Regions from separate parts of the Homo sapiens genome. Here regions 1 and 2 are each linked to region 3. Evidence: fine-mapped expression QTL. A gene starts in region 3. Each other region holds a variant in brackets. All regions are shown on one strand. Distances are between the middles of the regions.

Region 1 (8,193 bases), 410 kb before region 3:
AGAATAAAATGCCTGCAGAGCCACACTTCTGGGTCATCAAAGAATGACTGACTTTATATGCACCCAGATTAAAACTGGCATGATGTTCTTGGTCCCAGTTCTGGGAAAATGCCTGCAGCTTTTCCCGGTGTCTTTCCCTCACAGCATCTCCAAGACTCTCCCCAAATTACCTCAAGGGCTTGGGAGAAGCAAAGTGCTATCCCTAGGCCTGGGTTGCTTGGATCTCCAATAGAATGGTGAGTCACAGAGGGAGGCTCTCTGCCTCTCTCACATACTGAGGCTTCACTCACTTTTATCACCTAGATGCCACCACAGGGCTAACTGCCCACATACTCCTCCCTGGGATCTGGGATGTCCTTAATGATTCTGGTGGATTCCCATATTCCTTCTTGAATTAAAGCTCACAGAGAGATTTGGAATGAGTAGATGGAGCAAGATGACCAAATCATCCAGCAATCATCCCTCCCACAAGAACACCAAATTGAACAGCTATGCACACAAAAAAGCACCTTCATAAGAATCAAAACACCAGGTGAGCAATCACAGTGCCTGGTTTTAACATCATATTAAGGAAAGATGCACTGAGAGGGTAGGAAAGACACTCTTGAAATGCCTATCCACCCCTCCCTAATCACCTGGTAGCAGCTATATAGTATGGAGAGAAAATTTGTGCCCTTGGGGGAAGGAGAACCCAGTGACTGTGGGACTTTGCATTGCAACTCAAATTTCTCTGTCACGGAGGAAAGCAACATGGGGCAGAATTCAGCCAGCACCCACGAGGGAGCATTCAGATCTGCCTTACCCCAGAGGCAAGTCACCTGTTTTAGTGGTCAGAACCCGAGTTCCAGCAAGCCCTTCCACCATGGGCTAAAGTGCTCTGAGGTCCTAAATAAACTTCAAAGGCAGTCTAGGCAACGAGGACTCCAATTCCTGGCTAAGTCCTGGTTGGTGCTGTGTTGGGCTGGGCTCAAAGCCAGAGGATTTGGGTGCACACAACCTAGTGAGATATCAGCTGGAGTGGCCAAGGGAGTACTGTTGTCACCCCTTTCCCAACCCTGGGCAGCTTAGCTCACAACTCTGGGAGAGACTCCTTCCCTCTGCTTGAATAGAGGAGAGGGGAAAGTAAAGAGGACTTTGCTTGTAGCTGGGGTACAAATTCAGCCACAGTGGAGTAGGGCACCCCAAATCCTCTGGCTCCTGGGGTTCTCAATTCTAGGCCTAGGCTCCTGGATGGCATTTCTGGACTTGCCCTAGGCCAGAGCAGAGCCCACTGCCCTGAAGGGAGAGACCTAGGTCTGGCAGCATTCACCACAAGCAGACTGAAGAGCCCTTGGGGCTTGAATGAACATCAGCAGTAGCCAGGCAGTACTTGCTGTGAGCCTGGGGTGGTGGTAGCCATGGGGAGAGACTCCTCTGCTTGAGGAAAAGGGAGGAAAGAGGGAAAAATACTTTGTCTTGCAGCTTGGGTGCTAGCTCAGCCACAGTAGAATAGAGCACCAGTTAGATTCTTAAGGTTTCCCCCTCCAGGCCCTGGCTCCCAGACCAGCATCTCTGAACCTGAGTGGGGCTAGAGCAACTCACTGCACTGAAGGGGGAAGAACACAAGCTTGGTTGGATTTGCCACTGATGACTGCAGAGCCCTTGGGCCTTGAGTGAACATAAGTGGTAGCCAGGCAGTGATGACAGTAGGCTTTGGGTGAGACCCAGAGCTGCCATACAATCCAGCAATCCCACTCCTAGGTATATACCCAAAAGAAAGGAAATCTGTCTATCTAAAAAATATCTGCACTCCCATGTTAATTCCAGCACTATTCACAATAGCCAAGATTTGGAGACAACCTAAGTGTCCATCAACAGACAAATGGGCCAGGCACAGTGGCTCACTTCTGTAATCCCAGCACTTTGGGAAGCCAAGGGGAGCAGATTGCTTGAGCCCAGGTATTTGGAGTTAGCCTGGGCAACATAGTGAGACCCCATCTCTAAAAATAAAATTAAAAATTAAAAAAATTAGCCAGGCATGGTGGCATGAGTCTGTGGTTTTAGCTTCTCAGCAGGCTGATGTAGGAGGATTGCTTGAGCCTGGAAGTTTGAAGCTCCTGTGAGCCATGAACATGCCTAGGGGACAGAGTGAGATCCTGTCTGAAAAACAAACAAAAAGCCAAACAGAGTAATGGAAAAAGAAAATGTGGTACATATACACAATGGAGTACTGTTTAGCTATTAAAGGGAATGAGATTTTGTTATTTGCAACATGGATGGAAGACATTATGTTATGTTAAATAAGCCAAGCAAAGAAAGGCAAACTTCACATGCCCTCATTTATTTGTGGAAGCTCAAAATTCAAACAATTGAATTGATGGAGATAGAGAGTAGAATGATGGTTACTAGAGGCTGAGAAAGGTGGGGTTGGGGTAAGTGGGGATGGTTAATAGGCAAAAGAATATCGTTGGAATGAATAAGATCTAGTATTTGATAGCACAACAGGGTGACTGCAGTCAACAGTAATTTATCGTACATTTAAAAATAACTAAAAGAGTATAACTGGATTCTTTATAGCACAAAAAAGTATAAGTGCTTGAGGTGATGGATACCCCATTGACCCTGATGTGATTATTCTGCATTTTATGCCGGTATCAAAATATCTCATGTACCCCCAATATATATACACCTACTATGTACCCACAAAAAATAAAAAGCTCAAATGTTGAGCTTTATGCACTATCTTGCTATTTCCACATGTCTGAGGCACACTAAAAGTGTCTAACCCACCATCTGGGTATGCTCAAATATAGTTGAAAGAATATACAGACACTTGCCTTTATATAGCTTCTATCATATAGTTGCCATCAGAATTTTTCCTTTGTCACTTTCTCTCCTGTGTATATAAGATGAAATCACAAGTAACTTCCTCACTGATGCAGTCTGGTCAGCCTTTAGGCAGGGGCAAGGAGAGCTGCTGGGTTCTCCTCAGAGTCTAGCACTCTCCATTCCAGTACAGCTGAGGTGCCATTTTTGTGGTGGAGAGGGAAACTTTCTTTACAGAATTTTTTTCAATGTCACCATGTCACTAGACTTGGGACCTTCCAGATTCGATTCCCTCCCATTTGGTGCTCTCTGTCTGCTCCCTCCTCTTCCAAATCCACTGAATCCAAAACTTATAATGTTGTAATTATTGATCTGGGTGGTGGTTATACAAGAGTGTTTACGCTGAGATGATTTATTGAGTTCTGCCCTTATGGTCTGTGCAATGCTCTGTGTACATTTTTAAAGTGTAAAATGAAAATATAAAATTGTTAGCAGTTGCTAATTATGGTGGTGAGAACATATGTGTTTGTCATATTATTCTTTGTACTTTTCTATATCTTTTAAAGTTGCCAAAAGGAAAATTAAAACTCTCTTTCTATATATATTTCCAGATATATGTGGATAACTTTTTAGGAAAATATAATTTTTATGTGACCTTTGTAGCAATAAAAATATAAACAGCCCATATGCCTTAGAAGAAACAGAGACATTTTCAAAGTGCCCTCACAAAGAAAGCATCCACCCCAGATGATTCCTCTAGAAAATTTCACAAAATGTTAAAGATTAGATAGTCCCAATACCACCTAAACTACTACTAAACATAGAAAAGTAAGTAAACTTTTACCTTCTTAATGAAGTAAGTATAATGGGTGATAACTAAGCCTCTTACATATTGTCTACTTTTTTAAATTAGTGTCCTGAATATATTAAGTTCTTGAACATAAATTAATTGTAATTTTCAATTCCCTGATAATTCCTTTTAAAAAAAGCTTTAAAATTGACA[GACAA/A]AGTTGAATGTATCTACCACATACAACATGATGTTTTAAATTATATATACATTGTGAAATGACTAAATCTAGCTAATTAACATATATGCATTATGTTACATAGTTATTATTTTTGTGGTGAGAACACTTTACATCCACTCTCAGCATTTTTCAAGAATGCAATATATTATTAACTATAGTCACTATGTTGTACAATAAAGCTCTTGAATTTATTCCTCCTATCTAACTAAAATTTTGTGTCCTTTGACTAATTCCTTGTTCCCACCCCACCCCAAGTCTGATAATTCTAACATCTGTGTCATAGCTGAGTCTGGTTCTAATGAATGCCTGTCACTGCCACTGTGATTTTTTCTTGCCTTTTGTCATGCCTTATAATTTTCTTTGGAAAGCTAGACATGTTGTATTGGGTTATAGGATCTGGAGTAAACTGACCTTCAGTGTGTGGATTTGGGATTTGTGTTCATCTGGCTAGGAGCTGAGCTATGTTTAATGCTTGCTGTAACTATAGGTGCCAGAGCCTTTGAGTTCCTTTAGTTTCCTTGTTTTTGTATTCCCTTTGCACTTTGGGCTTCCCAAAGTACTCTTCCTCAGAAAGTCTGTGTCTTGTAGCTCCTAACAATTGCCGTCTGCTGTTATTCTACCTCAGCCCTGTTGGTAGGGTGGTAACGTGTAGGGAGGGGAAGCCTTCTATAATCTTATGATTAAATCTCAGTCTTTTAGTGGATGTATGTCTCAAAGCTATGACTTTCACAAGTACTTCTCTAGTGGTAAGGCTTCTTTTTTCCCTCTGCTCCTTACTTCCTTCTCTGGCTATGATGTTCTAGTTTATTTCCCTGAAGCCCAGCCCCCTTAGGTAAGGCAAGAAGGCTGAAGGAAGAATGCCCTTTTCTTAGATGGGATGAGGCTCTGGCAAATTCCCTCCCCTGCAGAGAACTATCTTGTGATGGAGAAGCATGTGAGGATAATTCACAACGAAGAGAATCTTTCCTGGATCTTTGCTATGAGAACCTGATGAAGTTCTGGAGGTAAAACCAATGACAGTGTAGGACACCCCCTAAGACTTTGGCCCCCAAGAGATTTTCACTATTACACTAGTCCACACTCAGCCTCTAGCAATGAGTCAAAATTATCATTTAAGTGTTTCTGACTTTAACGGCCTCTGCTTCACCTAAGCAGATCTCAGCTGTGACTCCCCAGATACACTTGTCTCTCCAGATGTTGGGGTGGCAGTTTGCCACCCATGGTCTTCACTCTAGATGGGTCCAGGAAAAGTGAATGATTTCCAGTGTGTCCGATTTTTTTCTTGAGTTAAGAATGGGGGGCCGGGCGCGGTGGCTCACGCCTGTAATCCCAGCACTTTGGGAGGCCGAGGCGGGTGGATCATGAGGTCAGGAGATCGAGACCATCCTGGCTAACAAGGTGAAACCCCGTCTCTACTAAAAATACAAAAAATTAGCCGGGCGCGGTGGCGGGCGCCTGTAGTCCCAGCTACTCGGGAGGCTGAGGCAGGAGAATGGCGTGAACCCGGGAAGCGGAGCTTGCAGTGAGCCGAGATTGCGCCACTGCAGTCCGCAGTCCGACCTGGGCGACAGAGCGAGACTCCGTCTCAAAAAAAAAAAAAAAAAAAAAGAATGGGAGTGACAACCTCCACGCTCTTTACTTGGTATAGCTAAACCAGAAGTCTCAAAAAGTTATGACAAAAACCTGCAAAATCAACCTCAATGCGCAAGAAAGGAAATAAGAAAAATAAGGGCAGAAATTAGTGAAGTAGACAATGAGTCTCTGACAACTAAAATCAACAAAAAAGGTGGTTTGTTGAAAATTGATAACATCTAATAAGACTAATCAATAAAAGGGAGAAGGCACAAATATAAGAGTATCAGAGCTGGAAAAGGTGGCGTCACTGGAGATTTTCAAGGCAATATAACAGTAAATAAGACTATATCAACATATTAGAAACAATTTTATGCCAATACATATGAACATATAGAAGATATGACCATACTTTTATTAAATACGACTTAACAAAATGGACAGGAGAAATAGATATCTAAACAGACCTACATGGTTAAATATTTACAATTTCTATAATGCAAACTAAATATTAAAGAAACTAAATCACTAATATAAAACCTTCCCCACAAAGAAAACTCCAAACTCTGACAGATATCTAAACAAATTCTGTTTTTAAAAAACAAATAATAAATAGCTTCAATATTTTATAAGTTTTTTCAGTGACATGCAATTAGAGGAGGAAGAATGCATGTCAGATATTGGGCAGCCAGTGGCACGGACAGGATTGACATTTGACAGTCATCTTTGGTTGCCCAGCAAACAGATCCCATTTATATTGTTAAAACCAAACAAGACCGGGCACAGTGGCTCATGCCTGTAATCCCAGCACTTTGGAAGGCTGAAGTGGAAGGATTGCTTAAACCTGGAGTTTGAGACCAGCCTAGGCAACAAAGAGAAACTCAAAAAATAGAAAATAATTAGCTCGGCATGGTGGCACGTACCTATGGTGCCAGCTACTCAGGAGGCTGAGGTGAGGGGATCACTTGAGCCCTGGAGTTTAAGGCTGCAGTGAGCTGTGTTTGCACCACTGCACTCCAGCCTAGGCAACAGAATGAGACCCTCATCTCTAAAAAAATTTAAAAATTTAAATAATAAATAAATAAAAACAAAACGCCACAGCACATGAGTGTTTGTGAGAAGCAGAAATTTAATCCCACTATGAAAATTTAAAGGACACCAGATGTTCTCCTCCTTAACTGGGATTTTGAATGTGGAAGAAGAAACCTGAAAACACAGAGAAAGTTAGAGATAGTTCATGGTGGCGGAGTCAATATGGCACCAGGCACTGGAGTGGGATTCTAACAGATATTCCTGTGGCACAACAGTGGATATGCTGTCTGCTTCCCATACTCCCTGGAGTCTGCCCATTATCTGAGCTAAGGTCTTTAACTTTCCTGTCAAACCTGTGAGCTGCATAATAGCATTGTAATACATTCATTTTCTGGTTAGTTTAGCCAGAGTTCAATGGTACAATCGTCATACATATCCTTAGTACCCAGAGGTGATGTAGCTGAGAAAGTATTAGCTCTTTCCACAACCCGTTTATGAGGTATAACAGAACCTTCTGGAAACCCTCATTAGTTAGTGTTAGTTTCTGCCATTTCTGGAGCAAGGTTCTGGCCTTTAGAAAAGACTCATTTTTTCCTTACTTGAAGCCTCCACTATTTTCTGTCACCTTGAATCTTTCCACTGGGCTCTTTGCCAGACTTCCAGTCTCATGTGGAATGACTGTGAAAGTTTTAGGTTACATAACTCATGGCTGCCGATAGGTAGTACAGCCTTCAGGATGTAAGTCTTTTTCATCCCAAATGACAAGAGACTTGAGACTGGTAATGCAATGAAACATTTACATTTCTGTTTCTCAGGCCTGACCAATCATAAATGCAAAGATGATAGTTTCTAGAGCTGCTATCCATTGCTGCCTATTTATGCTCAATTTAGCAGTGGTAAGGACACTAGTGAGCATTTTATGTTTGTCTATACTATTAGGTCGGTGCAAAAGTAATTGCGATTTTTGCCATTAATTTTAATGGCAAACTTTTAACGGCAAAGTTACTGGCATTAACTTTTAATGGCAAAAACTGCAATCACTTTTGCACAAACCTAGTATAAAAGAGTACTGCATTTCATATAAATCTGAAAATTTAACCCACATATCCTTCTTGACAGCTAAGAATTTTAATTTATGATCTCATTGTCAGACTGAATCAACCTAACTGATGCTATGGTCTCCTTTACTTGGGGGTACTCCTGTTATGATACCACTTCAAGCCTTCCAAGTTGAAATTTATGTGAAATATTATGAGGGCTGAGAAAATCCAATATCCAACACGAGTTCTCAGTATGGTTGCTCACAGGTTTCTTCCCACCTCTCTCTCTCTTAAAGGATCCATAGGACTTCAACACTCTAACCTCAGAAATATTTCCAGGCTGTGGGCTCATCCCCAGTTAAGACACAATGTGTTCCTCATATGTCACAAAGTTGCAGCAGTGCCAACCCTTACAAGGTCAGTTCCAACCCTGCCTTCTTCAGTAGTCTATATACTCTACTCTCCAACATCCTTCTGAGGATATCAGTACTTCCAAACACTTCATTTCTTTCTTCTGCTGAGGGACCTTGGAAATACCCTGAGTCACTGTCTGAGACTGGAAAAATCCTACCAGGCATGATATCTTTCTTCTCATTATTATCTGTATTCATGAGTGGCTGACAACAAACACATATAACACCACTGATTCTAATCTGACAATCTAAATTTGTGTTTTCAATATTCTAAATTAAAAGTACAATTTACTGGTTAAACTT
Region 2 (8,193 bases), 46 kb after region 3:
CTCTGAGGAAAAACTGGACCGGATGATCATTATCTCCTCTGGTTATAGATTTCTGAATCAAGGGAATTTTTAAATGAGTTCATCCACAATTTTCAATAAAATATAGTAGTGCTTAAATATATGGATATTGTTTTAAAGTTTATAAATAGGCCATGATTAATGACAGCATGACAATCTTGTCCTACTCCCAGTGAACAGCCTTTGTAACAATGCTTTTAGAACAATCACTATTACCTTTAAAAGCAAATAGGGACAAAATAAGAATTGTTTTCTACTTGTGGTCATTCCATTGCTTTAGTTGAAAAGGACTTTTGGTAGTCCAAATCCTGTCCAAGCAACATTTGAAAAGAAAAAAATCTGAAGGTCACATCTAATTAAACTCTCTCACAACATTTTCACTGTCAGAAAAATATTCAAGACTAATAATTCCACATGGACCTGTGCATCCAGCACTGAGGAGGGTCTTGAGGCCATGTGGTTCTTACATGTGCGGTGAAGGAGATCACAGAAGCTGGGCCTCTGGTGATACCCAGAGGCTTCCTTTCCCTAGCTTTGCACACCAAGTAATAGACAGGAAGGAGGAAGAGCCAGGCAGAAGGCAATGAGAGGCCACTTCCGAGAAGACACCTACGTCTCTACAGTGGCAAATCACCAGATTCAGGGATATTTTGAAGAATATTTTTCAGTTTCCCATGAGGCTTGGCTGTGCCCCTGCTGAAGTTGTATCCTGTATCTCTCATTCCTCTGTGAGTATCTGTGATTTTAAAACCCCATGAACTGATGTAACCCCTGGGTACTTGCTAGTATCCTTAAAGAACTGAACAGTGAGTGGTATGCTTTCATTTCTCGGACCTAGAGAACATTCATTTAAAAAACGAAATTTTTGCTTTAAAATTACAGACCTATCAGCTTAGCAGACATGCTTTCTAAAATAAATGTCAATTTCCTTCTGAATAAATTGAACTCTTGGGCCCACAATAGAAGCAGAAAGGGTTTGGCAGCAGTTATTCCATGTTGACCACTCTTATAGTCTATTTCACTTTGTGGAGAAATCCATTAGGAATAACATAAAATCCTTCTTTCCTTTCTTATTTGCTTCCTCCCTCCCTTTCTTCTTCTCCTCCTCGTTCCTTCCTTTTCTTTCCTTTTCACCTTCCTTTCTCCCCAAAATCGAGATTGGTAGAAATGAACTCTTGATGAATCTGAAAATAATTTTTCCAGTGGATCAAAATAGGTAGATAGTCTATATTCCCTTCACCTTCTTTTTTAGCTATAATTTACTGGCTTGCTATCATTTTTGGAAAAAAGAGAATCATAAGTCACTCCTAGGAACTGGGAGAAAGAATGGCTTCAAATTCGTCCTCATAATCCAAAGATACCATTTCAGAGGTAGCTGTTTCCTGGCATTTAAATGGTTTATGTAATATCTCTTATAAGTAATGAACTCATTTACATATATCTTGAATCCAGTGTATCCTGGGGCTGGCATCCCAAAATTAAATTGCCAGCTAAACATTCCAAGGTGATCTTTGTTGTTGTCATTCTAACTTTGAATACAGGTGTGTGAAGTATTCAGCATCTAACTGGATGTCATCAAAATATCATTAAGAGTTCAGAAACTGCCAGAACAGATGAAGTATAAAAGAAATACAGAATTTAAGCCCAGGAGTAAAAGAAGTTAATTGAAGAAAATTAGTTGCAACCAGAGGAAGATTGCAGACTTGTATTTACCTAAATCGAATGAAGTAATTCTATAAGGTTCTAACATCCACCAAGGAGTTTGAGGTTGTAAAGCTAGCCTCATCTAAATGGGATCTAGAGACCCTAATGGATAACAGCTGTGAGAAACATGTCCATCTAAAGCTCAGGGCCAACCCCCGCCCCCTACTCAGACATATCCTGCTCCCAGATCCTGAGTTCTGATCTAATCAATAATAGTTCATCTGAGATGGTCACTGTAGTGTTCAACTCTGAATCATTCGAGATGGTGAAACTATTCCCTTAATGAGTCTTCCCCATACTGGAGGGGTTTAAAATGAAATAGAAGAGGATCACGTAAATAAAATCCATACTATCAAAATCTAAATGCTAAGTTTAAGAATAACAGATATATTGCTTAGGTGTTTAAGAAAATTTGTATGAATAGAAATCTGAAAGAGAAATGTGTCCACTGATTCTACCTTAAAATGTTAAACTCATTTTAATGATCTAAACTCATTTTAAATTTGAGTTTTTAACAAACACACAATATATTAAGCACTTTGATAACTATATTGGGACGTTTAGAGTCACTACAGTTAAACAGTAACTTATTAGATTTTCAAGAGCTTTTTTAAGTATGGAAAAGTGTTTGCCTGTTAAGAATGTAAGTTTGTCAGGCTTCAGGCATTTGAAATACTGTACTTAAAAAGAAAACTGAATATTAAATTGATAAATGCAGCTAAAAATGGGCTAGACAGTTATGGGGAATAAGTCCGATCTACTAGGGCTAAGCTGACATTATTCAAAGGTCTCCATGAAAATGACTACATTCACTGGGCCAGGCTTAGGCAGAGATGGGGTGTTTTTCTACTCACACACATGTGCTCATCTCCATCAATTCTTCTAAAAGGTGTGTTTCCAGCCAGCTCAGATGATTCTTAAGCAGGGGTTTTGCTCTTACTCAGCAACAGGGGCAGAGTGGACCCTCCAGGTACTTGTCATAGGATATAATTTCAAACTCACTGTCATGCCATGATTTATCTAAAGCCTCTTTGAGAGAAATAGCCTATGAAGTACAGCCTGAAGTATAATCCATATAGCCCATTCATTCTTCAAGATATAACAAAAGTCATCCTTGGATGAACAAGACTGCCAGCAAAATACGCAAGAAGAATGTCATTTTGTATCCTTCCCATCAAACCTGCTTTAATAAACAATGATAACAATAGACATTTTTATTTAAGGATTTGAAATGTACTTCAATGTGACCATCTTAATCCTCCTAATAACATGAAGAAGTATGTGAGGGGCGGGTGTGTGTGTGTGTGTCTATGTCTCCATTTTACAGATGAGAAAACTGAGGTACAGAAAGGTTAAGAAACCTGTCCAAGAAGTAAGTGGCAGAGTTGGGATTTCAACCCAGGCTTTTAACCATATTGACATTGTGTTTTTGGCTTTCACTGGAAGGTCACTCTTATACTTACTATGAAGATGTTATTGAAGATGTTGTATTTTAAGTAACAATTTTACTTACTTTTTAATCTAACTTTTCCCTATTCAATTTACTTTTTAATAAATTATATTGTTGTAGCATATGTACTTTTGTATGTAAACAAATTATTTTGGAATAACGAGGAGTAGAATATAAATAAGAAAATAAACAATAAATGAATAGACCAACTGAATAATGGGGTAGAAATTAAAGGAAGATTTGTTTTTCATGGAATCCTACAGATCAACACTATCCAAAAAGAAATATAAATGAACCACATTGTAAACTAAAATTTTCTAGTAGCACCATGGGAAAAAAAGAGGTAAAATAATTTTAACAATAATACATTTTATTTACCCTCCAAACCCAAAATATTATTTTGACATGTAATCAATATTATAATATTATGAAGATATTTTATGTTCTTTTTGTTCATACTAAGTCTTTGAGTCCAGCATTCATTATTCTCCTACACATATCCCAATATAGACTAGCCTTATCTGACTAGAGGCAACCATACTGGACAGTGTACGCAGAGGTGAATGGGAAGTCAGAGCCATGCAGTGTCAGCCCAATCCACTTATTTTTTGGTAGGAAACCAAGGTCCCAGGAATTCAGAGACTTGCCTAATGGAAAAGTAAGGACTACTACCTTGGATTCCAGCTCAGTGTTGTTTCTGTTGTTCACACTTTCTACTTGAATGCAAATTCATTTCCATAGAAGACTGCCATCTCCTTTCCTTATCATTTTCTCAACATACTATCACCTAGCCCCATCTGAGATACACACATCTCCCCATCTGAGATACACACATCTCACAGAGTTTTCCATTCCGTGACTACACTGGAAACTTATCTACAGAGCTCCAAAGTAGATGCTCCACTGACATCAGTGGCTACTTACTCCAGAATACAGAATAGGATTTTATTTTACCCTTTGGTATACATTTTAAGGGGTGAACAAGCTCTGACAACTAAATGTTTCCTGCTTTTGTTATCTGCTATGCTGCCTGTTTAAAATCAGAATGTTGGCTGGGTGTAGTGGCTTGTGCCTATAATCCCAGCACTTTGGGAAGCTGAGGTGGGAGAACTGCTTGAGCCCAGGAGTTCAACAACAGCCTGGGCAACATAGCAAGACCCCACCTCTACAATTTTTTTTTTAAGCTGGACATGGTGGCACACACCTGTAGTCCCAGGTACTCAGAAGGCTGAGCTGAGAGGATCACTTGAGCCCAGGAGGTCAAGGCTGCAATGAGCTGTGATTGTGCCA[T/C]AGTCCTCCAGCCTGGGCAACAGAGTGAGACACTGTCTCAAACAAACAAACAAACAAACAAAAAGACAATGCCACTGAGCACATATTTGAAAAGGGATGGAACCAAGTCATATTTCTTTGTTGGGTTTATTTGTTTATTATTATTAGCCTCATCCATTTTCTCTAGTTGTCTCATGTCGCGCATGTATCTGAGTCATTATGTATCCACAGAAACACAACAAGGTAAACTCTTTATAGAGAGGAAAAAACTAAAACCAAGACCAAATAGTGAAAGTCTTGCCTCTTTAAAATCTAACAGCCATAGGTTATAGCTGACCAATGATCTTATCAGAATCTTAGCCTAATAAGAATTGGATGAAATGCTTCAAAAAGATAACATTACTCAGTCCAAGGATCCTTCCCTCCTTTTTCTGAGGAAGTCTCCCAGGGTTGGTGAGTGTATTCCCAGTTGCCCACTACAATCATAGTGCGACCCTGCAGCTGATGGTGCTTACAGCCCACAGACTTTCAGGACCCTGAGAATCCAACTCAATTGCATTAAGCTCCTACTGGGCAGCAATTCTGTTCTTCCTGGGATAGGTTTTATAAGGTTCTGTACCCATTATCAATCTATACAGAAGAATATAGCTGTCCACAGATTTTATTAGTGTTAACCAATTACTATAGCAGCTCAAAATTTTTTTTCTTGCAAGAGAAAAGTGTCCTTCTTCTTTCCTTGTTCTTCTATTCCAATTATATGAATTCCTTTCCATCCTGCCAAAATTCTACTATAATTACTAATAATTATAAAACTATGATTTTATTTTTTTTGGGTATGCCAATGTCATAACAAGGTTTGAGGGAGGCCATCTCACACATGCCTGTGAACACCCAATCATCACACTTAGGAACTACAAAAGATCAAAATCATGATTCTAATTAGAAACTAGTTTGTAGTGTGGGTATGTGTACAATAATTTCTGACTGCTGAATCAGGGGGACTCCAGAGTTTTAAAAATACAGTGGTGGCGAGGCAGCCAATCTAGAAGTCTAGCTGTGGGTTCAAAGCAGGCATCGACTGTGGTGAAGCAGTGTGCTGATGGCCACCTGCCCTTGACAAGCTGTGGTTTTGCCTATAGTGAGGTGGGCAGGCACTCACCAACACAATCAAGATTGGCTTGACTTTCATTTGTGATTTATACAAGGAGGTGAATCATCTCTGGCTACTATGGCAAAATTCCATCAAACACCCTCCCCCTTTCTGGCTGCAGGTGCTCACATCCCTCTCAGGTGGTGCCTCAAAGATGAGAGGGAGTGACTGTCTTCAAAGCCCAGAGACCAAAGGAAGGACAGTGTCATTTTCAGTATCTGAGTTTCTCTCCCATCATGTATTTATGCATCTCTTTCTCCCCTAAACGGTTTCATTATTTGTTTTTTTCCATGAGTATGTTTGATTTTATTTTTCTATTCTTAATTTTAACACACAAAGTGGATCATTCTCACTCCCGAACCACACAAAGTTAAACTACTTTCGAGATGCATATAGCCTCAGATTTACCTTTATTTTCCTGAGATTGTTGTCCTCATTCTGAGAGCATTCTACCCTTTTCCAATGTACAGTATAAAGGAAAGCCACACTAACAAAGATAATTAATTTGGGAATTCTCTCTCCTCATCTCCCGCCCATTATGCTCCTTTAATGCTCCTTTAATTCCAAGAAGAAGGTACAATTTCTCACCAAGGTATATGTCAGAAAAGAGAAAAAAGAAAAGTAAACAGCAGTGGACAACCCATGAAGTGGAGAAGTGGTCCTTGCATGATTTTATAGTATTTTATTTTTAGTGTGTTTCTTCCTTAGTCTATGATATTGAGATTATTTCCAAATTTTATAAAGAAATTTAAGCATCATTAGATGCATAAGTAACTGAAGGTGGCATAGTATGTTGGAAAAACATCTACACAGGAGGAGCAAGCCCCAGGTTGACATTAACTGCCTGCTGCATAACCCTGGGCAAATCAATTAAATTCTATGAAGGTAAAGTTCTTCATCAATAAAGTATGGTATTATTATCTACTCTCCCAATCTTTTTTTTTTTTTTTTTTTGAGACGGAGTCTCGCTCTATCGCCCAGGAGTGCAGTGGTGCGATCTTGGCTCACTCAAACCTCCGCCTCCCGGGTTCAAGCAATTCTCCTGCCTCAGCCTCCCGAGTAGCTGGGATTACAGGTGTGCGCCACCACGCCTGGCTAATTTTTGTATTTTTGGTAGAGACGGGGTTTCGCCATGTTGGCCGGGCTGGTCTCAAACTCCTGACCTCAGGTGATCCACCCGCCTTGGCCTCCCAAAGTGCTGGGATTACAGGTGTGGGCCACCAAGCCTTGCCATCCTCTCAATCCTATAAGGATCAAATGAAATGATAAATATAAAACTACTTTGTAACTTGCAAATAATAATAAGGTAACAGTAATGGCAATAGCAGCAAATTGTTATCTTTATTATTCTTTGAATACCTCCTACATGCCAAGTATCATTTTAAATGTTTTACATGAAAACTCATTGAATCCTTACACTGACCTTATGTAAAAGGTACTGTTATTACTCTCATTTTACATGAGGAAATGAAGGCACAGAGGGTAACTCACTTGCCCAAGATTTAAAAGTTATAAGTAGGAGAGCCATGATTCAAATCCAGGCAGCTGGGCTTCAGAGCTTGATGCTTTACTGACTCCCTATACAAATCTCAGCTTAAAATTATATAATCTCAGAAAACAACTGGGAAAATTTGATAACATGCTGTTCAAAGCTCGCTCTTTATGGGAAGGTCTTTACTGAAGACTAAGCATAGTTGACAGTGCCCACAAAATCAATTAAATAGCCAAGTGCAGCAAAAGATGGTGGTCACTCCTACATACATGTGGACAAGACAATCTTGAATGTCAACAAGGTACTTAAATGCAAAATGATTATCCTTTTAGACTTAATACAATGCACTAGCATTGTGGGTAGCCAGGCAAAAAATCTGAAGTATCACATAAATATATTTGATATTTCTGAAGTATCACATAGATATATTTGTGCTGAATTTAGATAAACACTTATTGAAATGGTTCATGTGGCCATAATTCTGCAATTAAGAACCAATGGATATGCCCAAGGCTAGATGGAGGCTATAATTGGAGTAAGACCAATATAAACTAATTGTGCAATTTTTCTTCCATCTCAATTCTTGGCATATCACTTTAGCTCAAAGATACTGACCACTGATTTTGGTTAACAATAGAAGAGGGGGCCAGAAAGTTTAGGTATAGAAATACACGTGTTCTTAATCACACAACCGTACCTGCTACCTGCAGAAAACCTACTGGCTTCTTTTTCTTTTTCTTTCCACTTCTTTCCCTTGCTGGAATTCCTTCGCAAAGGCGCCCTGTAATGATAGTAAGCAGTCAGAAAGGGGAAGCTGAAATTTTCTCTTTCAATCCTCCTTTTACAGAGGGCTTTCTTTTTACATCGTGAAGTGCTTACCCCAGATCCACAAACTTCCGCTTAATTTTTCCTCCTTGCACCGCCAATGAACTGGATGCCCTTAGTGATTTGGGATCTTTGGCATCATCTAGGATATACACATTTGTGAAAAAGATCAATTATTATTATTTTTAAAGTCACAATTCAAAAGTCAATGCATCTCTGAATCTAAGGGCTTTGCCTAAATTCCTAATTGTAAAATAAATAATCAATGCCTTCTTATACGACCTA
Region 3 (8,172 bases):
GTACCGAATGGTACAAAAGCTAATGTTGCTGCAACGTTATGCTGAGTGAATTATAAGAAATTAGGTCAGATGATAAGCACAGCCCAGATCTTGTGGGGCCTTTCAGGCCACAATAAGAAAATAAAATGAGAAGCCACAAGAGGGAGGATTTTAAGCATGGAAATGATATAATCTGATTTACATTTTTAAAGGATTACGTGGGCCTTGGTAAGAAGAATGGATTTGTGGGGAGGGTGATTAGGGAGAGAACAATGGAGAATCTGTTCTAGCCTGGAGATGATAGCAGCCTGAACCAGAGTAATGGCAGTGGAAATGGGGAAAATTGGGTTGATTCAAGATTATTTGAAAGTTGTAGTGGTTTCAAAGAGCTATCTATACATTCTTTGATATGTGGGCTAGGCATTTTTGCACTGCTATAAACACCTGAGGCTGGGTAATTTATATAAAAAAAGTTTTAATTGGTTCATGGTTCTGTAGGCTGTACAGGAAGCATGGTGTCAACATCTGCTCAGGTTCTGGTGAGGACCTCAGGAAGCTTAAAATCATGGGGGAAGGTGATGGGCATCACTAGCATGTCACATGGCAAGAGAGGGAGTGGGGGTGGGGGGAGGTGCTATAGTCTTTTAAACAACCAAATCTCACGTGAACTCAGAGCAAGAGAACTCACTCATTACCATGAGGATGGCACCAAGACAATTCAGAGGGATCTGCCACCATGACCCAACACCTCCTACCCTGTCCCACCTCCACCATTGGGGATCACATTTCAGCATGAGATTTGGAGGGGACAAACATCCAAACCATATCAATATGCCTCAAGGCATATGAAGGGGAGCCTCAAAAGGTGAAGTTTAATTCTTCTCACCTTGAATGTAAACTGGAGTTAGCAGTTTGCATCTAACAAACAGAATATGACAGAAGTTAGGGGATGTCATTTCAGAAGTTAGGTTAATAAAAGATTGTGGCATCCATTTTGGAGGCATGCTATCTCACTCTTTCAGATTGCTCATTCTAGTGAAAGTCAGCTACCTTGTTCTGTTGTAGTTCTGTAGAGAGGCCCACGTATCAAGGGACTGAAGTATCAAGGGACTGAAGTCTCTAAAGAGCTGTGTGAGTAATCTTGGAGGCTGATCTCACCTCCTTCACCCACTCCAGTTGAGCCTTCAGATAAGATGGCAATTCACACTGACAGCTCAGCTGCTAACTCATGAGAGACCTTGAGCCAGAGGTATCTAGCTGTGCCATGCCTGAATTCCTGACCCACAGAAATGATGAGATAATAAATGTTTGTTGTTTTTAATGGTGAGACTTTAGTATAATTTGTTATGCAGCATACGATAACTAATACAAAATAGAGCCTATAGGACTGACTGATCTGTTTGGTGCAAGAGGGTGTGAGGAAAAGAGATGGATGAAAGAAGATATGTAGATTTTGGACTTGAGCAACTGGATGGTAGTGATGCCATTTATTGAAGTGTGAGTTTGGGCAGGGGGGATTAAGAGTTTTCCTTTGGACACATTTTGAAAAGACTGTTAAACACCCCAGTGGGCATGTCAACCAGGTAGCCTGCTGGGCCCTGCCCAAATTCCTTATGCACTGTTTATGAGCATAAGAAAATGATTGTTTGGTTTAGCAGCTAACCTTGTGAAATATCTCCAATCTTCCATTCTCACCTTAACCCATTCTAATATGGTTTGTGTTCTTTTGACTCGTGTAGAATTTGTTCTTATTAAACCACCTATTGTATCCATGTTATCTAATTCAGTAGTTACTTCTCTGCCATAAGCATACTCAACTCATAGCCACATTGGACACAGATCATCATTCCCCCTCTTTTCGAATACTCTTCTCTTTTGGATTCATTGGTTCTACTTCTTAGGTAGATTCTTCTGCTCCACCTGGTGTTAACCAGGGTGGCTTAGCCAGTGGTATTCAGTTGGTGGCCAGGCTGTGGTGGCTGGGCTTGTCTAATAGCCCACTTCATTCATTTCTGCTTCCTTGGTGCCGATGGTTAAGAGGTTGGCTTCAGCTGACCACTTTCCCTCTCCATATGTTCATGGCCTTTCATGTGAATGCTCCAGTGGAGTGGTCAGGTTTTTTACATAGTAGCTCAAGGCTTAAGAGCAAGTGTTCAGAAGGAGCAGAGAGAGAGGGCAGTAGTTACAATGTGAGGCCAAAGAAGCTTCCCCCCAGAAAGCTAAAGGTGATAAGTAAAGCATGTTGGTATTGGCTGGCAATATTCCACAAGAGATGAAAGGACAGATATTGCAGAAGAGAGAAGGTATAACTGGGACCAAAAGCCTTGAGAAGGAAAGAGACATGGAGCAAATCATTCACAGTAACAGCAGACAGCAGAGAAGAGAGACATGGTTGTACAGAGGCACCTCCTTTGGGTCTTTACTCAAATGCCCCATTATCAGTGAGAACTTCTCTGACTGCTATTCTTCAGCAGAGGGTATTCCTTATCCCCTTTCTTGCTTTATGTGTTTTCTCCATAACATATGTGCATATCCATAACACACACATGCATCACCTAGAGCATTATATATGCCACAGTGACATGTTTTGCTGATTTCTCAATTGACTCCCCCCATTGGAATGAACGTAAGCTTGAGGAAGACGTTTTGTCCTGTTCTGTAGCATCTAGAACAGCGCCTGGCACATAGTAGGTACTCAATAAATGCCAGCTGCATGAGGAAATGAATGAGCTGTGTGGGGGATGTACTTGAGTGAACTCTAAAGTCAGAGTGGTGTTGAGAGAAAAATGCTTGAAATCCAGATGTTGGAAGGTGACACAGAGTAGTAGCCTGGTGAGAACAGTTAGATCTTAGGGGTTCCTACTACAGCCCTCCCTTCCGCACCTTTTTGGCTGTCACCATGATCAAGCTACTGAATCTCTCTGAGACGCAAGGACCGGGATGGCACAAAGTGAGTGCTCACCAAAGCTTGACTGTCCTTTCCCATGGCAATTTACTTCAGCTTGTTTGATTTCCCCTCCCCGACTGGACTAGGCACCTATTCTCTGTCTTCTCTCTTTACAGTTGGAAGGAGCAAAATGGGACTTTTGGCTGAAAGTGCTGAGCTCCTGCGGTGGGGGCTGACCGCAAGCCACGCCTTCTGTGCACCTGGTCGGCCCAGCTAGCTGCCGACCCGGCGGGGAGGGGCGGGGCGGGCCAATCGGCGCTGCCCCAGCAGGGCTGCGGCTGCAGGCAGGCAGAGCCTCCTAGCCCGTCGGTGTCTGCGCCCATCGATCCCTTTGTCTATCCCCGACCATGGCGAAGCTGATTGCGCTCACCCTCTTGGGGATGGGACTGGCACTCTTCAGGAACCACCAGTCTTCTTACCAGTAAGTTGGGTTGTGGTGAGGGCTGCAGCCTTCGTCCTCCTCACTCCCTGCCAGCTCCACGAGCCCCCAGAAAGTTGGGTCCAGGCTGTTAACAGAACATTTACAAGCAGGTGCTAGATGCACACTCTGCGGGGGTTTCATAAATGTTTGTCCAGCCGTCATGTGTCACTTGAAAACAAACTCTTGCTCATGGCCTGAGACATGGGATAAGGAGGCAATTGCCAGGGGTGTGAGTGCCCAGGTTGTCAGCATACACGAATTAATTTTTCATGAAGATTTGTGTGCCCTGGCTACAGATTCACTTCTCAACCTGGAAAGAAACAAACTAACCTGGCTGGGGGTTCTCCTGATATTTTGTGTATTAGAGAAAGGAGCCCCTGTCGCTTCTGCGCCTTGACTGCCTGGCCATGGCAAACCTTCCAGGCTTGAAGATTCTCAAATTGAGGCTACTGAGGGCCACAGCAAAACTGCGTGTGGACCCGAGCAGGTGGAGCTAACGTGTGCTGTGATGGTTCGCTTCAGTGGGGGCAGGCGGGGAAGAGGGAACCCTGGAGCCAGCATCTGATGTCCTGGGGTTTAGCTCTGCCCCATGAGTATGCGATTTGGGCAAATCACTTTACATCTCTAACCTTAGCTGCTTCAGTAAACTGGAAATAGTAATACACACTGCCTGCGACAGAGTAGCTATTCAATAAATGTTAGTTCCCTGCTTCCCTTTAAAGTATTTAATAAAGGGTTAAGTGCTATACAAGGGGGGTGGGGATATTTTAAGAATGTATCAAAAGTTTCATAACTTTTAACAGGAGTTCAAAGTCTACAGATCATCCTAGTCTCTAAGGCTTAGTCAACAATGCCTTATTTACTTTAAAGTAAAACCTAATAAAAATTAAATATAAAAAAATTATATGAGCTTATGGACTAATTAGAAGCTTACATTCAGAATGGGTTTTTACTATTTATTGTGGATGTTTTTCTAATTTTTTTAAGTTACAGAGTGCAGAAAAAAAGTAAGAAGCAGTTGGTATTCTTGGCTTTTAAATCATGTAAAAATTACAGTTTGTGAGTTTTTATTAATCACAGTGCTGGTGGCTGCCAAAGGAGATTATAGGTATAGATAAAAATATATAGATAAAGGATGGGTTGCTGAGCCTCCTGGAGTGACCCAGACAGAGGAAGGAAGGGAAATTTTACCCACTGTTGGAAACCCCTAAAACCTAGCTACTCAACTGGGTCTGGGGACCAGATGCCTGAGCATCACCTAGGGGCTCCCTGTACAGGCAGAATCTCAAGCCCTACCCCACACTATTGAATCAGAACCAGCGTCATGGAACAAACTCCCTGGGGGATTAGAGATCATGAATCTGCCCCAGGGAGAGAAGGCAAGAGATGATATCATGAGGCCTGCATCAGGAGCAAGCCAAATCCCCAGGATAGATGCATCCTTTTTTCTTCAGACTTGGAGTGTATGTGTGTGCGGCTCACAGGAAGCTATATATGCCTGGGCTGGAGGGAACTTAAGGAAGCACACAAGGGATGCCTCAAGAGATTTCTGAGTTTCCCAGGTGGGAGCAGTACAGAGAAAAGAACTGAGAGAGTTCCCCTAGACCACGAGTCTCCCACCCACGAGTCTCCCACCTTTGTAGTCGGCTGTATGTGCCGCACAAGTCCAGGGAATGCCTTGGATGATGGTAGAAACAGCTCCCCTCCCCTACCCCAACTTGGGCTATGGAATGTTGCAGCATCTGTATGGCAACTTCCTTGTCCCTACATTGCTAATTGCAATACGTGAGTCCACTGAGTTTCCCTTCTCAGAAGGAAACCACAAAGCTAACGTTGGGCCTCTCGATGCATTTCTGCCATTCCATGCTTACTGTAGGCAACACACAGTTGTGGGAAGAGAGTAGTTGTGGATTCCTGATGACCTGGGTTAGATATCATTTCTGCAACTTTCAAGTTATTTTACCACTTTATTCCAGAAAAGTTCCAGCCAGTTTCTCCACCCGAAAATTAGGGGATAATAATACATATTACAGCATATATATATATATATACACACACACACACACACACATACATATATTTATATTTATATAAAACATATAAATAAAACTAAGTATATATATATATATAAAAATCAGGCATATAGCAGATGTCCTGTAAACGTTAGCTTTTATAGCTGTCATATGTGATCTCAAAAATATAGAGTGATACTTGAATATGTATTATAATCATACTTCATTGAAAGTCTGAGATAAGGACAAATAATCCTCCAACCCTCCAGTCTCCCCTATGAATGCAACCAACACCATCTTCTCAGTCTGATGTACTTGCCTAGTATCTCCACAAAACACTTCAGTGGACATCTGCAGAGTACCTTCTCTTTGCAAACGTTGTGTTTCTGCTGGAGGTTATAGGAATGAATAGGTTGCAGTATTCACTCACCAATTTTAAAGTCTACTGGGAGCAAAAGAACAAAAACTGACAGCTGTGAAACTGACAACTATGACAACTATGGTAAGAAAGTTGACAGATGTATATGTGAAGGTTCCTGAGGGTAAACTAAGGAGTTATTAATCCCAATGCAGAAGACTGGAGAAGCTACAAAGCATCATGAGTAGGGGTCTTTCCAGTGGGTAATGGGCTAAAGAGCATTCTAGGTGAAGGGAAAAGTGTGAGCAAATAAAAAGAGGTATGAAAGAAATACAGGGAAGAGTCCTTAGTATCATGACACTTGATTTCAAATCCCAACTCTACCCTCTTAAATAAGCAACCACATGCAATTTACTCAGCCTCTCAGTGCCTCCATTTCCTTACCTACAAAACAGGGTAAATATTCATCTTTTTCTCAAAGGTGGCTAAAAAGATTAAATGAGGAAGTATGTGTGAGAGCCCTTATTGGAGCTTGGCACATAGTAGGCCATGAAAAGCAATTTGAATGAATGAGGCGTGTGTAGTAGCAGAAAATAGACTGATTAGAGTGAATTTGGCCCCAAGAAGAGTTTGAGAATCGATACGGATTTCTTAATGCCTAGGCAAAGATCTCTGCTTTTTTCTGCGAGCAGCCAGCATGTATTTTCACCGAATACTTCTGCCTTGGTTTGGATGTTCGTCCTCTCCAAACCTCGTATTTGATCTCTAATGTTGGAGGTGGGGCCCAATGGGAGGTGTTTGGGTCATGAAGATGGATCCCTCATGAATAGATTAATGACCTCCTTGGGAGTGAGTGAATTCTCACTCTATTCATTTCGAGAGAGCTGGTTGATTGAAAAGAGCCTGGTACCTCTCCCCTCTCTTACATTCTCTCTCATCCCATGATCTCTGTGAGTACTGGCTTCTCTTCATCTTCTGCAATGAGTGGAAGCAGCCAGAGCCCCTCACCAGATGCAGATACCCAATCCTGAACTTTCTAACCATCCAGAATCATAAGCCAAATAAACCTTTTTTCTTTATCAGTTGCTTAGCCTCAGATGTTCCTTTAGAGTGACACAAAGCAGACTCAGACAAGTTCACAGCAAAGGCTGTATGGTTTCTGCGCAGAGTTCAGAGTCTAGTGAATCAGAGATATATCTCAGACATTGACCCTTATCTCTTAGGCCCAGAACATTTGGACTTAAGCCTTTGACAAGATATTTCCTAATAAATTGAAAATGAGGTAGAAAAAATATGAGTTGGATGATAATAACACAGGTGGGTCAATTTTCAGGTGCATCTTCCAGCTTTTAAGCAGTGTTCTCTGTAGATTTTGCCTGGTCAGAGAGCTAAATGTGAGCTTTGTGTTCATACTTGAATTCCAATCCCTGCTCAGCCACTTTATAACTCTGTGGCCTTAGAAAGCCACTTAATCTTGGTCAACTATAACTTAGGGAAAATAACACCTCACGGAGGTGTTTGAGGATTAAACGCGGGCATATACGGTACCTGAACTATAGTAGTAATGATTATCCTGTTGAGATATGACATGTTTGGGCCACAAATTGGAACCCAAATCAACAAGTGCTGACTTAATGCCCCCTTGCCCACCCTGGGCTCCCTTTAACTGTGATTATTCTATGTTTTCCAGGCTAGAGATCATCTTCTATGAGAGAGAAGCCTGAATTAGAATAGGAGCTGACCAGTTCTGCCTTTCTCCATCTTTTGTGAACCCATATGTTTAGTGACCCTTGTGAGTCAGGCAGCATGAGTATTCTTCCCATTGGTTTTGAGTCTAAGAAAAGTGAATTTGACTATCCTTGGTGTTTTTCACAAGTCTTGGCCCATTCAGTGATTTTATGTCCTTGAATCTCTCCTTCCATGCCAGTCTTTGTGTTGTCCTCGGTTATGACCATCACCCTTAACATCTTGTACCTGCCCTTTGGTTCCTTGAGGGCATGCTACAAATATTCACTACACTTTCCCTAGACCAGAGTTTTTTCAAATGGTGGGTAACAAAGTCAATTTAGTAAATAATTACCAACATTTAAAAATAAATAAAACAGAATTGAACAGAAAAGTTATGAATGTATGACACAGATTAGGATGAGTATTGTTTTGTGAAGCTTGATTCAGATGTGTATGTGTATGTGTGTGCATGTGCTGGGTGTTCGCACCATATAAAATACTTTTCCTACTGTGAGTCTCTGTCTGAAAAGTTTGTAAGCCACTGCTTTATCACTTCCCCTTTTATTTCCTTATTGTCAATATTTGCAATTATAATGTCAGATTTTCATTTTGAAAATACCTTTCCCTTTCTTAGGTTATGGGACAGATTCCAACTTTCCTTTGAAGCCTGCTTTCTAAGTTCACATCTATCAATCAGGAAACCACAGTCTCCTCACAGTCCAAGCCT

Which allele goes with the higher level. Positions count from the first base shown, and alleles are read on the strand shown. Sizes are in standard deviations (SD) of each study's normalised expression. Not every link is listed here.
In carriers of allele GACAA in region 1, the expression in anterior cingulate cortex of the gene that starts at base 3,217 in region 3 tends to be lower than with A alone (moderate effect, 0.73 SD a copy in GTEx).

Evidence for each region.
Region 1: its variant is fine-mapped to the expression of PON1 in anterior cingulate cortex (GTEx, PIP 0.95).
Region 2: its variant is fine-mapped to the expression of PON1 in testis (GTEx, PIP above 0.99).

What each region holds. Positions count from the first base shown.
Region 1 is chr7:95,729,604-95,737,796 of GRCh38, reverse strand. No RefSeq gene overlaps it. Among named protein-coding and RNA genes, the nearest start is that of DYNC1I1, 39 kb to the left of the region's middle. The variant GACAA/A (reference allele first, on the strand shown) is at 3,809.
Region 2 is chr7:95,273,756-95,281,948 of GRCh38, reverse strand. It overlaps PPP1R9A (protein phosphatase 1 regulatory subunit 9A), which reads right to left. Exons shown (of 20, transcript NM_001166160.2): 15 at 7,963-8,050; 16 at 7,781-7,864. It overlaps LOC124901848 (small nucleolar RNA U13), which reads right to left and starts at 5,363; the gene lies at 5,265-5,363. The variant T/C (reference allele first, on the strand shown) is at 4,463.
Region 3 is chr7:95,319,577-95,327,748 of GRCh38, reverse strand. PON1 (paraoxonase 1) reads left to right here and starts at 3,217. Exons shown (of 9, transcript NM_000446.7): 1 at 3,217-3,347. The coding sequence starts at 3,274. RefSeq lists a silencer at 3,094-3,273.